Homo sapiens: one gene and its partner. The protein of the gene in region 1 interacts with the protein of each later gene in a biochemical or structural test. Each region holds a gene or a part of one and is shown in the gene's direction. Other genes may lie near its edges.

Region 1 (3,680 bases):
ATAATGGATTACGCCAATTCTAAAAAATTTTACACCTATCTGGCATCATAGGATTTATCAGTTATCAGACACCTCATTGTACCAGAGATTGTCCAGAAGTTTTAAAGACCTTTGCATCCCTGAACTGGGCTATGGGAAATAATAATAGTAATAATAATAATAATAATAATGATGAAACCAATACTGACACAAATGCTGGTGCCCATTCAGATCAAGGGTACTTGTTAGGGAAAAAAAAAAAAGTTTGCACCCCCAAACGTCCTGTATCTTATGAAAAAAAAAACAAAAAACAAAAACAAAAAAAAAACACAAAAAACCACAGAAACAAAAACAAAAAAAAGTGCAAGTGATTTTTCTACCAGACAGCGAAGCACCCCTTTGCTTCCCATGCGACTTCAAGAAGGTTTCCTATACTATACATATATATACGTTCTGGTTGGCAAGCCCTGCTGATCAGAGAAAGTCTCTGCATGTTCTAGTGTTAGTAACTAATTTTTATATAGTTAATGTAGGATAAAGTAGAGTGCATTAAGACACAATATTGTAATCCCTACTCTAGGCACTTGCCTTTAAACTATGTTTTTCAGCCCTTCAGAAGGGTTCTACTACTGTCCTATACAATCAAGTAACTGAAATTCTTGGGAAGACACTTTGCTCCTCATCTTTCTCCCCGAAACAATGTTGTTTTGTTTTGTTTTTTTTCCTTAATTTGCACGAAAACAAAAATTCCATATCAATGTGCCTTGCCCTGGATAGCGATTATTTGTGGAATTGTTGCACATGCTCCTCTATTGAAAGGGGTTTTTCCCTAGTCAAGCATTTGGAGACACTTTTTGTAAATGTGACTTTTATGTCAGCCATCGTCAGTTTCAACATCTAGAACTAAATAGAAAGCTAGTTGTTCCGCAGATAGGAGTAGTCTTTATTGTCCTGTACGGTCGGTGGCAGTGCTATTCTGAGATCTGTAGATGCTTAGAATATCAGTATTTTGGATGTTGCTGCATTTTACAATTTATTTGGAGTCTTCCTTTATTTTCCCCCAGATATATGAAAATATGCAATACCTGCTTATATCATGTAGAAAAGCTTAGCAATTATTAATTTTTCTTTTATTTTTTTTTATTTGACCAAAGTCGGTGCTGCACTTGACGCAGTGTGTTTTAGGTGTTTGTCTTTGTACTTTTTTGTGATTTTTGAATGCACGTGCGCAGGAAGGGCTCCTCTTAGAGAAGCAGTCAAACTGTGAAGCACTAAGCTGACCCTGCTTCAAGCAATTTTGTTTTTACAACTGTTCCTTTCACAAGCAAGCCTTAAAAAAAAAAAAGACAACTTCCTTTTTCTTCAGCTCCCACACCCCATTTTTCTTAGCAGACTGCAGTCAATCCACATTCAATAAAAAGTATATAATGCCCATTTTTATATGCACGTTTTTAAACTTCCAAGTTCTGAAAATTGTTTACTGGTTATCTCTATTTAAGGAAAAAAAAATAAAATAAAACATTTTGGATTTTCATATGTGTCTGATAAGTGGTTGAATAGTCGTTTGGCGCTGTTGTATGGTGTGATTGTCAGTGTATGGTGTCACTTCCTATAGCCAGCCAGCATACTTTGCCTTCCCCTATAGCACTTAGCTGGGCATTACTTTATTATGACATATGTGCACTAAAAAATGAAAAAAAGGAAAAAAAGAAAAAAAAAAAGAAAAAATAGCAGCTTTCAGTGCTTCACAGTGAAGGGAAAAAAGCCTAGACAAACATTTTGTCAGAACCTTGCAATAAGCCAAGGTATTACCAGTAAATTGGTTGTATATACAATAAAATTGCACCCTTTTTTAAACAAAACAAACTAAGCAATAGTTTGGGCAGTTTTAGTTGTTTTTAGTGAGCATGTTGTAGTCATGACTGCAAAGAGAGAGAATAAACTGCCCGCTCAGAAGATATGTAATTTGTATTGTTGTATAGTTTTATTGATTACACTGATTTATTCTACCCTATTTTATAATGCAGGACTTTTGTAATGTTGTTTAAATGAGGAAAAATTTCTGTCAAATTAGCCTAGTAAAATTTCTGATCGTTCATTATAAAGGCAGCGTTCATAGAATTGCTTTTCTTTCTTTTTACCCCCCCTTTGGGAACTGGATTTAAGTTTAAAACTTTCCTGTTTCCTTTTTTTTTTTTTTTTTGTAAGTATTTAAATACAATTATTTTTTTCTCTCAATGGTATAGCATATTCCTATGCTTGAGAAGTATAGGTCTACTGAAAAACCATTGTAAATGGACGTTACAGGTATGCTGTATTTTTGAAGGTATTTTGTTGTATTAAGTTTGATGAAGCTAAAATTAGGGAACTCTGAACAGATTTGCAGGAAAAAATGTTTTAAAGGCTTTAAAACATTAGGGAGGCAGTCTAGGGTGATAACGAACAGGGGTTAAGTATTAAATACACGAAGTTACATTTTTGTTCATGTTTCATTGTCCAGAAAGCAGCAGGAAACTATTCAGTTGTGATCAAGCAGGAAAAAAGAAACACCAACAGTTGCCAGTGTTTTTGCTTTTTAGCTTAAAAGCATAGTGAAGATGCTTGAGGAAGACTTTGCTACCTGGGGTGTGTAGACAGACAGACTGAGAGCTATCAGCATTTGAAGGCCCAGCCCTTGACTCTGAGACACATTTGAATTTTTTCTTTCCCATCAAATGGCATTAACAAGATTGGGCAAAGATGAGTCCCTCAAATTTCTGTGTTTTTTGTTTGTTTGTTTGTTTGTTTTTTCTTTGGGAACTGAAGTCAGAGGCACGAACACTAACTCTTAGCATTTTTCTGTAGACTTTTTCTTCTGGCCCTTGTCCCTGCCAGCAAAACGCCCCTTTTCTGATCATTCGTGCGCAGAGGGCCTCCCAGTAATGCCACGCTCTCCATGCTAGAGAGCCTTCTCTTTCCTCTGAGGTTTGAACTGATGTTCTGTGTCTTCACACCCTGGCATGACAGTTACGTGTGGTCAGCCCGCTCCCCAGGCCCGTCCCTGCCGCCGCCAGGTGTGGGCTCTAGGCAGGCCGACAAGGTTACACCTCCCAGAGCTTGTGATCTTCATTTTCTGACAGTCAAAGTGTGAAGGAACCCAGACTTCCCCGAGCCACGGTGTTCAGTCAGCCCACAGGAATATGCAAGACCCATCTCCAAAAGTTTGTCTTTGATTTTTTCCAAGCCCTTAGCCCCATAAGCTTTGAATCCTGTAGTTACAGTGGCATAAAGGACTGACAAAACCTGGATAAGGAAAAACCTTTTTTTTCTATGAATTTTTTTTGTTTTTTAGGGGAAAGGGATTCTAAGAATGTCATTTAATGTACTTTGCATCATGTCTCTAGAAATATCTTTGTCCATAGTGGTGGTGGAGTCTCTCTCTCTCTCTCTCTTTTTGTTTGCTTCTGTTTTCTTTCTTGTCTTCATTCTTTCTTTTCTTTTTTATTTCTGGTAGCAGGCCTCCATAGAACAAATCTAAAACACAACCACCATAGTAATGTAAGGAGAGCTTCAGTGGCACCTCAAAACCCACCCTTCGAGATCTGTCCAAAGACAGTCTCAGAAAGCTGCACTGCCCACCGGCTCAGCTTTCATTCAAAAAGGCTTCCAAGGCCAATTCTGTCTTGAAGTCAATGCATGTATTTACTGTTTGACAGTAAACC
Region 2 (3,816 bases), on another chromosome or scaffold:
GGGCCGCGCACTTTGCGCCTGGGTTTGCGCGCCGCGGCCGCGGGAGTCCCGCGCGGACCGGCCGGACGCCCGGCCTCCCCCAGCCCCAGCTTTTTGTGTGTGTGTGCCTGGCGGCGTAATTACTGATTTGATTCCAATCCATTATTTAGACAATTGAACCTACAATCTCGTCTTTAGTAAAATGAGGCGAAGTCAGATTTGATTACAGGTTCAGTCCCAGCGACAAGAGCTCGAAACCCGATGGGTTAATAACAGATCACGAGTAAATTATTCATGATTTTACGAGCTCTTTAGCTCCATTGAATCGGCCTAATTGAGAGGAAAAAAAAAAAAAAGGAGAGAGAAAGCCCGGGTCCTCCCCCTCCCCTCGGCCCCTCGCTCCTCCCCGGATCCGATCCTGGGGAATCTCGACCCGCCCCCGGGCACTGGGGGCGGGAGTGAGGGGGTTCGGGGCGCCGGCCAAACCTGGGCCCCACGGCTGCCTCCCCCGCCGCCGCCCCCTGCCCTTGCCTCTGGCCGGCCTCGGCCTCGCTACTTAGGGCCGGCTCCTTTCCCTTTTTCTCCACTCCCCTTCTTTCCCCTTTTCTCTACTCCCCCGCCAATAACGGCTTCGGAAAAGGCCTCCCCCGCAGGGACCGGGTCTCCCGGAGCCCCGGGATTCAGCTCGGCCACCGGACCCTCGCCACAAGCTGCGCCTGTTTCCGGGACTCGCTTTCCCCTCCGCTCTCCCTATTTCTTGCTGTCTTTGTAGCTGTCTCTCTGTGGTTCTCCTGGCTCCTTCGCTTTCTTTTCCTCTGTCTGTCCTCTCTTTTTCCTGGCTCTGTCCATCTTCCGTCCCTACCCCCTCTCTCTTTCTCTCCCTCCATTCTGCCTTTCTGTGTTTGTCTTTTTCTCTCCTTTCTCTGCCCTTTCTGTCCCCCTCCCCCGCACTACTACCCCACCTAGGCGGCACTCAGGGCAGGTCCCTTGGGCCCATGGGGGCGCCGGGGTCCCCACGGAGCTCATTAACAGCAGCCAGGCCCAGGCGGGGGCTCGGTGGAGGGATGGGCCCAAAGATACCCCGTAGGGAGGCTGCCCCACCCCCAGTGGAGCTGGGGACTGGGGGAAAGAAAAGGGTTGCTCACCTCAGCGGGTTCCAAGCAGTTCTGGTGGATCAGGTTCAGAGGCATCCTCTGATCCCCTTTAAATTGCCGGACCCGCGCTCTTCACTCTGGGCGTGCTCTCTGTGGGAATGCAGCCCCGGGGGTGAGGGGACCTGAGTGCCGGTGGAAAGAGGCCCCTAGGAGGTGTAGCCCCTAGCTAACAGCTCCAAAGGCAGGGGCAAGACTTGTATCTTGCAAATTCTCTCTGCAAGGGGCTCTTCCCCATCTGGGCAGGGGAAGGGGGAGGTCACCAGCAGAGTAAAAGTCCTTTGGAGGTAGTGTGGCCAGGCAAAATGCAGCATCCCCAGTTAAATTGGAATTTTGGGTACGTAACAAATACATTTTTAGTGTAAGTGTCCCCGGCAATATTTGCATTTTGGAAAAATAACGAATAAATTTGAAATTTGTAGTATAAGTGTCCCGTGTAATATTTGAATTTTAGATAAATGACAATTTTTTAGCATAGCTGTGTCACCTGTAGTATTTGAATTTCAGGTAAACAACAAATACATTTTTAGTATAGGTATGTCCCATGCAATATTTAGGACATGCTTATACTAAAAAATTACTTATTATTTTTCTGAAATTTATATTTAACTGGGCAACCTGTATTTTCATTTGCTAAATCTAGAGCTCTGTTACGGGTATGTGATGAGGGCACAAGATACCTTCTCAGTTCTCACTTTAGGCGGACCGAATGTACACCCCTTATGAGGCTTACCCCAAGGCAAGACCTTAAGTGTGGCATGGCTCGGGAGGTGCCATGAGGAGGCGACCTTGGGAGGGGTCCTGCAGGTCCCCATCAGCTTCCAGGTGGCTGAGCAATTTTCTGAGGCCCAGGTTTTCACCCATATTCCCCACCCCCAATGCCAGCCAGGCATTGGCAGCGTGGCCCCCATGAGGCTCCTTGTGGTTAGGGACAGGCTCCCTCCTCCCTTCGTGGTGTAGTGGAAGAAAACAAGGAGTACTCCAGTGCTAAATCTAGGCTCAACAGATCAAGATCAATCTAGCTGGTTACCGGTGGTGTGGCAGTGTGCAAGTGGCTTCATTTCCCTTAGCGTTAGTTTCCACATCTCTAAAATGGGAATAGTCATAGCCACCTCTCTGAGAGGTAATGATGTACAGTGACATTTGTAAAGCCAAACACACACCATAGGTGTCTACTACATGTTTATTTCTGCCTCGGACTTCCTTCCCCGTCCACTCTGCCGCTCTCTGTGGACTGCCGCAGATCTCTGAACTTCCCCGAGCCTAATTTGCTCCACTTGTTCACGGAGAAACAATCATCTTACAGGGTAGCGATGAGGATTAAACTGCAAAATGCAGTTTCCAACCTTTGGCCCAGTGCCCAAGGCCCAGGGGTCCCTCAGTACTTTTGGGTGTGGCAAAATGAACATGAATCTCTGTTTCAGCAGTTTCTAGGTGCCGGTCCCAGACACGGTAGGGGGAGACGGCAGAAAGCACTCCTCCTTAGAGTGCCTTGGAAAACAGGAGGAGGGCAGGCCCAGAGACCCTGTCCTGCTGTGTCCAAAGTCAAGTGACTTCCCTTGCTGAGCCTCAGTTTCAACATCTGTAAAAACGGGAAAAATAATACCTGGTGCTCCTAGGATTGTTTTAAGTACCTAAAGAAAATGTGCCTGGAAAGCCCTTTAACACATCACCTGGAGTTCAATCGGCCATCAACAAGTCGTAGCTGTTGTTGCTGCTGCTGCTGCTGCTGCTACTATTGTTCTTATTGTAACATAATGGCTCAGAATGATTTTTGGATTCTCCCAGAGCCGGGATTCAGTGCTGCAGTTCTTAGCAGTGTGATCCTGGGTGGATCGCTGTCTCTGAGCCTCAGTGTTTCCATCTATAAAATGGGGATGATGTCCCCCTTTCATTGTGGCGCAGACATGCAGCAGGGTTAAGGATTGAAATGTTTGGCAGTGGGTGGGGCGAGTGTGGATTTGGCATGGGGGGCGGGTCAGGAAGTTCACCCACCGGCTCTGTGTCTCCTCCCTAGCGCTAAGCTGCAACGAAAACGACGCAGAGCACCTGGACCGTGACCAGCCATACCCGAGCAGCCAGAAGACCAAGCGCATGCGCACGTCCTTCAAGCACCACCAGCTTCGGACCATGAAGTCTTACTTTGCCATTAACCACAACCCCGACGCCAAGGACTTGAAGCAGCTCGCGCAAAAGACGGGCCTCACCAAGCGGGTCCTCCAGGTCAGCCAGGGCCAGGGGTGAGGGCATCTGCGACCACCAGGGACTGGGGTGGAACCCTGCACCCCTCGCCGTGGGCCTTGGAAGGACCTTCCACCCTGTGTCTGCTTCTCTGTGTGTTTAATCTTTCTCATTCTCTTTCTTCACCTCTCCAGCCTGTCCCCATCTGTATTTCAGTCTTTTTTTTCTTACTTTGTCTTTTCTCTTTTTCAGTTTTTGCCTCTCTGTTTTTCTGTTTGCGTATCGCTCCATCCTCATTGTCTCCACACTCGGTCTCTTTTCTTTCTTCTAAACAATTCTTAGTTTCTGTTTATTATTCAAGTGACACTCATTTTACACACATTCACATCATAAAAGGTTCAAACATTTCAGATAAATCTAGAGGCCGCCCCACCCCATCCCAGGACGTACACCCAAGGTGACTATCATTAGCTCCTGCTTCTTGCTTCTTACCCACTCTAGTTTC

What was found.
Region 2: the proteins of NFIA (region 1) and LHX2 form a complex in vitro, tested with the Homo sapiens proteins (one study listed by BioGRID).

The regions. Positions count from the first base shown.
Region 1 is NC_000001.11:61,456,523-61,460,202, forward strand, and holds part of NFIA (nuclear factor 1 A-type), read left to right. Parts: 3' UTR 1-3,680.
Region 2 is NC_000009.12:124,017,952-124,021,767, forward strand, and holds part of LHX2 (LIM/homeobox protein Lhx2), read left to right. Parts: intron 1-3,147; coding exon 3,148-3,353; intron 3,354-3,816. UniProt on the Homo sapiens protein: Acts as a transcriptional activator. Stimulates the promoter of the alpha-glycoprotein gene. Transcriptional regulatory protein involved in the control of cell differentiation in developing lymphoid and neural cell types.